Homo sapiens: one gene and its partner. The protein of the gene in region 1 purifies or fractionates together with the protein of each later gene. This does not show direct contact. Each region holds a gene or a part of one and is shown in the gene's direction. Other genes may lie near its edges.

Region 1 (3,820 bases):
GGAAAAACTAATTTTATTATTTTTATGAGGATAATATGTAATAACCTAATTTTACTTTCTATTAAAGCATAATGAAATCCAAAAGGAAAACTGATCACATGGAGAGAACTGCAAGTGTCCTTCGACGGGAGGTTTGTATCTTTGGGGTATGACAGGTTTTTCCAGCTAGACCGTTTACATGTGGTTATGACTGGCTTATGGGTAAAGCATTAGATGAGTCTGGTCCTTTTGAAGGAGAGTTGGGAAGTTTGTTATTTTTCTATTTAGAAATTTTCTGAGCAGGACATTTGATATCTGATTTGAAAAGATGACAGATACTCAAATTTTTCCCTTTAAACTTGGAATGAATGGATTACCTTTTGATGAAGCAAGTAGAGCAGCAACTGAGGGAGCCATCCTCACAGGTATGATGTTTAGGGTTATGTTTTAGCACTAGAACTTCCTTTAAAGCCTACATTTTATGAATAGCTTACCTTTCTCTGTTTTTTTGTGTGGGGTCTTTTTTTTTTTTTTGCGTCACATCTCAAAGTTCTTGTTCTCATTCCTGCTTTAGAGCAACTTATTTCATCAAGGGAGAAAGCACTAACATCTGAGAAAGGAAAGTGGACGAGCTCTTGTTACCCTTCTAATGTACAGATTTTTTCCACCATATTCAGACTATAGAAAGCTAATCTACCACCTGAAGGGGTGTCAAGGGCTGAGAAATAAAGGATCCTCACCCTTTACCTCAGTGAGTAACCCCATTTTTGTTTAAAAACATAAATCGGATATTTGATTTTGCTTTTTTGAATGTTTATCACTTACTCAGATATATTTAGCTTAGTGTTATAAGTATATGTAAGCTAACAATAAAAAAACTATTTCATGTAAAGAAGGATTATATACTTCTACAAACATGGGCAGAAATTATATTGTCTCATTTAAATTTATCTATTAATAGAAGGATACACTTTAATGTAAAGGCATATTGTTTAGGCCCTACTTTTAAGGCTAACTTCTTTCAGAAAGTTACTTTGGGACTAAGGGTAATGTGTTTGTTGATTCAGCTTAAAGTTCTTTTTTTTTTTTTTTTTTTTGAGAAGTCTGTAAAATTAGTTTAGCATAGTAGATTTAGGAGCTTGTGGGGAAGTACACTTTTTCCAATAATAAATCTGAAAATACTTTTTTTTTGGTTTGTTCAAGTGACCAAAAATGCTGATTCTGTAAATGTGAGACTTGTTAGGATTTCTTTTTATAAAATGAAGGCCTTGCAAATTATGAAAAAAAAAAGTGATTTATCTTACAGGCTCTTTCCTGTTGTATTTTGAGGCTGGTAGAATTAGAGCAGAGGTTGAAAATCTTTCCCTAGAAGGCCAGATAGTAAATACTTTAGATTTTTTGGGCCGTGCTGTCTTAATTACAACTTCTAATCTTTGATTTTATAATGTGAAAAGAGCCATAGACAGTATGTATACAAATTTCATTTACCAAACACCCAGATTTGGCCTGCAGGTAATAATTTGCTAGTCCCTGAATTAGAGTATTCATTTCAGAATTTTATTTTACAAGACCAATTAATTTTAATAGCCTGCAGAAACTAAGTGAAATATAAGCAAAAAAGAATCATCAAGCATTTACAAACAATTAGTATATTATTTACTGTTTAGCGTCAACTGATATTTACTGAGCACCTCCTGTTTTCCAGGACCAAAAACTTGTTTCTTACCTTACAGAATTCTCAAAACTATGCCGTAAGATACATAATAATATTTTAAGACAGGTAAGATAGATAGATAGTTAATAGTATTTTCTTGTTTTTTTTTTTTTTTTTTGAGACAGAGTCTTGCTCTGTCACCCAGGCTGGAGTGCAGTGGGTACAGGGGTACAGTCATGGCTCACAGCAGCTTCTGTCTCCCAAGCTCGACTGATCCTCCTGCCTAAGCCTCCTGATTAGCGAGGACTACAGGCACACTATTGTGCTCAGCTAATTTTTAATTTTTTGTAAAGATGGTCTTGCTGTGTTGCCCAGGCTGGTCTTGAACTCCTGGCCTCAAGTGATCCCTTCTCTTTGGCCTCCCAAAGTGCTGGGATTACAGGCATGAGCCACCACACCTGGCCAGTATTTTCTTTTTAACAGATGAAAAGACTAAGAATCGGACTAATAGGAACTTGCACAGCATCCATCATAGGCATTAACATACTTAATTATGTTGACTGCCAATTCTAAGGAAACATATCTATTTCTCACATTTTTATTGTTACCACAAAGTCTTTTACATTTTTCAAATTTGTGTGGATATAAACAGTATTTTTATTTATATCACCATCATTTCTGTTTCCTAATAAAAGACCTTTATCTCCCTAAGGTTATCACCACTTATCTATAATTTCTTGCTTATTAATTTTAATAAAATATACATAAGTGGGAATGTACAGTATTCAGTATTCTGTGGTTTACAAATGAGGCAGGCACATACTTTAAAGGTTACACCTATTAAGAAATAGATGCTAATGGCACGTCTCTCTCTGAGTACGCTCACACTCCCTTTTGTTGGGTGTGTGCTTTCCCCCTTCCAATAAATCACTGTACTATCACTAAAAAAAAAAAAAAAAACAAAAGATATCAACTATGATTTCTAAAATATACTTAAATATATTTAAAATTAACCTCATTAAAATTTTTGGTTTATAAATATAACTATAACTACAGTATGTTAAGCTTAAATGACTATGTATTATGATGGTTAGTGACATATAAAGTACTGATATACATATTCTTTCAAGTTTGAAGTACCTCACCTGAGAACTCGGCTAAGGGGCAGTTCCTTAGTTTGGTTCCACTGGAATAAAATTATAAAAGGTGTATTTTCCTTTATGTAACAGATACATAACTATAGCCAAAAGGTCAGGCAACACAGAATTCAGTAAATACTGAGGATAATGCAATAGTTAATGTCAAATTCTAGCCAACTTCTAGTATTATGAAAGTATGTCTAATCTTAGGGAAAACCTGTTCTAACAAAATTATCTTAAGAAAAAGGGAAAGAACTATAAAGAAACAGACTATTAGAGATCTAGTAAATATTTTATAGATTAGGGACTGAGCTTCAGTCTTGATAAGTAACTTGCCCAAGCCATATATGCCAGTGGTGAAACCAGGACTGATTGCTGAACCTGACGTCTGTTTCAGGTTCTTTTGAACATGCCCTTGTTCTTTCATGTTATGACCGAATCGTACCATTTATTCACCGAATTTTAACTTTAATTTGGAAAATTATCAACTAATAAAACTTTTTCTCTTCAGCACAACTCTCTAGTTTTTCTAAAAATGAGCATTTTAAGAACAGGATACAGTTGATAACATTAGAGCACTCTCATAGTTCCTTAAGATCAGAACTTTATACAGGAAAAAGTTCCCTTTACATAAAGTTTGATTTGGCTGGAGAAAGCTTATAAAACAGTCATAGCTTTAAAGCCTTTTTACTCTGTATCATAGTGACATCCCCTGTTGTAAAACAGTTTTTTATCATCTGACATTTTCTTCAGATAGCCAGTTTTCCTGCTTTGGCTGTCTTATAAGAACTTCCAAAGACTTCAGTCTACCTATAGTTTGTTGTTTGTAGGTCAGGAAGAGTTATCTTAGAATGTAGCTTACAGACTTTCTGCCAAAAATGTTCTTTAGTTGTGTCTTGTCTGCAGTAAGAATGTTCAATTTGTGGTCAAGCGCAGTGGCTCGTGTCTGTAATCCCAGCACTTTGGGAGGCTGAAACAGGAGGATCACTTGAGACCAGGAGTTTAAGACCAGCTTGGGCAACATAGCAAGACCCAGTCTCTGCAAAAA
Region 2 (3,820 bases), on another chromosome or scaffold:
TTAGCTATTATCACTCTTCTTTTTTTTTTTTTTCCGAGACGGAGTTTCGCGCTTGTTGCCCAGACTGGAGTGCAATGGTGTGATCTCGGCTCACTGCAACCTCTGCCTCCCGGGTTCAAGCGAGTCTCCTCATTATTACTATTCTTAACACTTACCTGTTCCTGGCTACCATTTCTCCATGGCGGGCCTGACTAGGTGAGATTTTCGGGACAGATAATGGGAGGTACAGATAGTCAGCCAGCCGGGTAGAGAAGGCAAACAAACCCCTTGGTGTGTGTGGGAGGGGGTCCAGAAGAGGGCAGACACAAGACCAAGTGGGCAAAGGGAGAAAAGGCCAGTTCTCGCATCAGCTATTCTAATGAGCTCTAAAACACGAGCCATCGTCTCTCAGTTGAGGAGGAGCGGGAGGTTGGAGAAACCTCAGTTGTGGATTCTTCCTTGGTCAGATATTGACCAAGCATCTGCAGTGCGAGGCGCTGCTCAACAGAGAACCTCAGCCCCGCCTTCCTGAGCTGCAGAGTGCAGGGAGCAGAACCTCAGCCCCACCTTCCTGAGCTGCAGAGTGCAGGGAGCAGGCAGCACTCACTGGGCAGCTACGAGGGTGGGAGCAGGCTTGGGGCAAGTGCCCAGGGTGGGGCCTGCCACTGGCCTGGTCACGGGGCATCCCTCGGCAAGCAGGTACTTCTGCACACCTCCTGTGAGGCAGGCATGGGGCATCCGCTATGATGGAGACAGACTGTGTCCCAGCCTGCACAGCCCTCCCTTTGGTCCAGAGGGGAAGACACACCAGACGGGAATCACATACTGGTGTGTTTAGTTCTAACTGTAAGATGTGCCAGGAAGATGGGCTGGATATTCTCCATTGGCCCTTTCAAATCCCTTCTCTTCACCTTCTCTTTATGCATGGGAGGCTGACCTTATCACCTGGTGGCTGTGCCACCTCGATTCGTTGGTCTTCTGGCATTCAGGTGGGTCCAGCCAGTGGGAGGCACCAGTAGGTGATAGGAGAGTGAGTGCAGAGAGCTCATGAGTGTGTGTGACCCTGTTCCCCAGTGGTGCATGGCTCTGGTGGCAGCTGGGCTCCCTACCTAACTCCCTCCCTGCTGAGTGACTCCAGAATTCAGCTCCCTCCAGGGTGAGTTGTACCTTCCCCGACCCTTGCCCTTCAGGCTCCTGCATTTCCCTGAAACTCTGCCCATACCTCTGTGAATTGTCCCTTCCCAAAGCCCTCCTCCAGGAATCCCTGCAGCGCGCCACTGTCTCCTGCTGGGGCACTGACTGGTGCAGGAGGGAAGTGCAGGGTTCTGAGGGAGGCAGAGCCAGGGTCCTGACCTGTGTCGGGGGGCAGTTTGCTTTCTCTGCCTTATGAGGGAAGTCCTCCCCAGCCTTCAAAGTCTCCCCTCCAGCATCACCTCCTCCAGGAAGCCCTCCCTGCCTCTCTAGCCAAGGTCAGATTAGGCTTCTATTGCTCTTTCCTTCAGAGCACTGATCTCAGTTTGCACCTTCACATTCAGGAGTATGTCTAATCTGATTACCTATCACACTCCTGAATATCACGCTCCTGAACATGAAGGTGTAAGCTTTGCCTGAAGTCCCAGAGACACTCAGCAGCGGTGCAGAATTTGCACCTGGGTCTGTCTGGTTCCCACTCACCTATCACCACAGGGCTGCGGGTCAGAGCTCAGGATCCAGCACTTGAGACTGTCACTGCTCACCCTGTCACCAACTTGCTGGAGAGAGCCTGGGTCAGCTTCTGTTCACCACTGACTCTCCTGGGCCTGGCCAGAGTAGCTGTTCAAAAGGAATTCTTGACTGGAAATAATGAGCATCCGAAAAGGCATTTCAAGAAACAAATACCACCGCCCCCAAATGGAAGGCTATAATGTTCTTATTGTTAGCAAGAAAAATAACATGGCTATTATAGCTAAATTAACTAAATGGCCTGCCACCTGAGAATCTATTGTTTATGGCAAGACAGGGCCTAGGGACATTACATTACAGGCAAATTCTTTTTCCTTTTTCTTCATAGGTTTGCTCTGGAATTAGTCACAGAAAAGGGCCATACATTTGCCGAAGAGCTTCAGAAAGTGAGTAACACCATCTCACCCAAGCTGGGAATCTTCAGCCCCGGTGGCCATCACGGGACTCAGCATCCAGCCACCAGTTACTCTTTGTGTCACCTGGGGCTAGTTACTCTCCCTCTGTGAGCTCCATTTCTTCATCTGTAAAATGCGGACAGGCCAGGTATGGTGGCTCACACCTGCAATCTCAGCTACTTGGGAGACTGAGGCAGGAAGATCACTTGAGGCCAGGAGCCTAGGTAACATAATAAGACCCTGACTCTACAAAATATTTGAAAATTAGCCAGGCATAGTGGTGAATGCCTGTAGCCTTAGCTACTCAGGAAACTGAGGTAGGAGGATCTCTTGAGCCCAGGAGGTCAAGGCTGCAGTGAGCTGTGATCATGCCACTGCACTCCTGCCTGGGCAAGAGATTGAGACCCTGTCTCAGGCCGAGCACCATGGTTCAATTAAGCCTGTAATCCCAGCACTTTGGGCGGCCAAGGTGGGAGCATCACTTCAAGCCAGGAGTTCAAGACCAGCCTGGGCAACTTAGGGAGACCCTGTCTCTACAAAAAAAAAAAAAAATTAAAAATTAGCCAAGTATGGTGGCATGCACCCATAGTCCCAGCAACTTACAAGGCTGAGGTGGGAGAATCGCTTGAGTCTTACAGGTTGAGGCTGCAGTGAGATGTGATTACACCACTGCACTGTAGCCTGGGCAACAGAGTGGGATCCTGTCTTTAAAAAAAAAAAAAAAAAAAAACCTCTGTCTCCAAAACAAACAACTGGAGACATATAATCTTCCTTCACAGGCGAGTGGGGAGGATTGTACTAAATGAGGGAATTTAAAATGCAACGGTTCTCAACCCAGGGCCATTCTGCCCCTCAGGGCCCGCTGAGCAATATCTGGAGACATTTTTGGTTGCCACATCTGGGTGTTGGGGGTGTTGCTGGCATGTAAATATCCTGCAATGCAGGGGACAGCCCCCGTCAACGAAGAATGACCCGGCCTTGAATGGCAATAGCACCGAGGCTGAGAAAGCCGGTGTGAAGTGCCTCGCTCATGCCCGATGCAGAGGGAACCTGGGAAGCCTAGCTGCAGTGAGCCCTCAGCCCGTGGGACTCATGCGTCACAGTGTCACTGTTCTGTTCCCTAAGAAGGAGGGGGCCTCTGACCCACGCAGAGAACTTCAAGCACGGAGACAGGGTCACCACCCCAGAATGCCCAGGGTGCCGCACTTTCCACCTCCACATGGACCCAGGTCCCCAGAAACCGCTCCCCGCAGGGTCAGCCCTTCCCACTTCCGTTCTGAAGCCCAGGCTGGAGCCTGCTCAGGCCCCTGGGAACAGACGGAGGGTAGTAGGTGGGGCTGCCACAGGCTGTGGCTGCAGGAGGAAGCCTCAGCTGCCAGAACATTCTGTGTGGTGGAGGAAGGCTTTCAACCTCCTGAGGAGCCGCGGTAGCAGCGGTCATTTCTGTCTGCTGTACGCGTTGGGTCGCAGCTGTCACGTCACCTCCTCAAGGGCCTTCCCTGGCCACCTAATCTCCAGCTGGGTTAGGCACTGCTCCTGGATTTCCACATCCTCTAACCACAGGCATCACAAGGGGTGTTAACCTGTTCACCCATCCACCTCCCACCCAGCCTTGGCACTGTGAGGGCGGGGACAGTGTCTGGTTCACCTGGGAGCCCCGCCTGGCCTGGTAGCCGCTCGCAGGGCCTGTGGATGAGGCCGGGCAGCAATGCCACTGCTTTCCT

What was found.
Region 2: the proteins of OXNAD1 (region 1) and MMAB purify together in Homo sapiens (affinity purification with mass spectrometry; one large-scale study listed by BioGRID and IntAct). This does not show direct contact.

Annotation. Positions count from the first base shown.
Region 1 is NC_000003.12:16,271,592-16,275,411, forward strand, and holds part of OXNAD1 (oxidoreductase NAD-binding domain-containing protein 1 isoform 2 precursor), read left to right. Parts: intron 1-67; coding exon 68-131; intron 132-553; exon of another isoform or gene 554-628; coding exon of another isoform or gene 629-730; intron 731-3,267; exon of another isoform or gene 3,268-3,696; intron 3,697-3,820.
Region 2 is NC_000012.12:109,563,386-109,567,205, reverse strand, and holds part of MMAB (corrinoid adenosyltransferase MMAB precursor), read left to right. Parts: intron 1-38; exon of another isoform or gene 39-178; coding exon of another isoform or gene 179-195; intron 196-2,029; coding exon 2,030-2,087; intron 2,088-3,820. UniProt on the Homo sapiens protein: Converts cob(I)alamin to adenosylcobalamin (adenosylcob(III)alamin), a coenzyme for methylmalonyl-CoA mutase, therefore participates in the final step of the vitamin B12 conversion.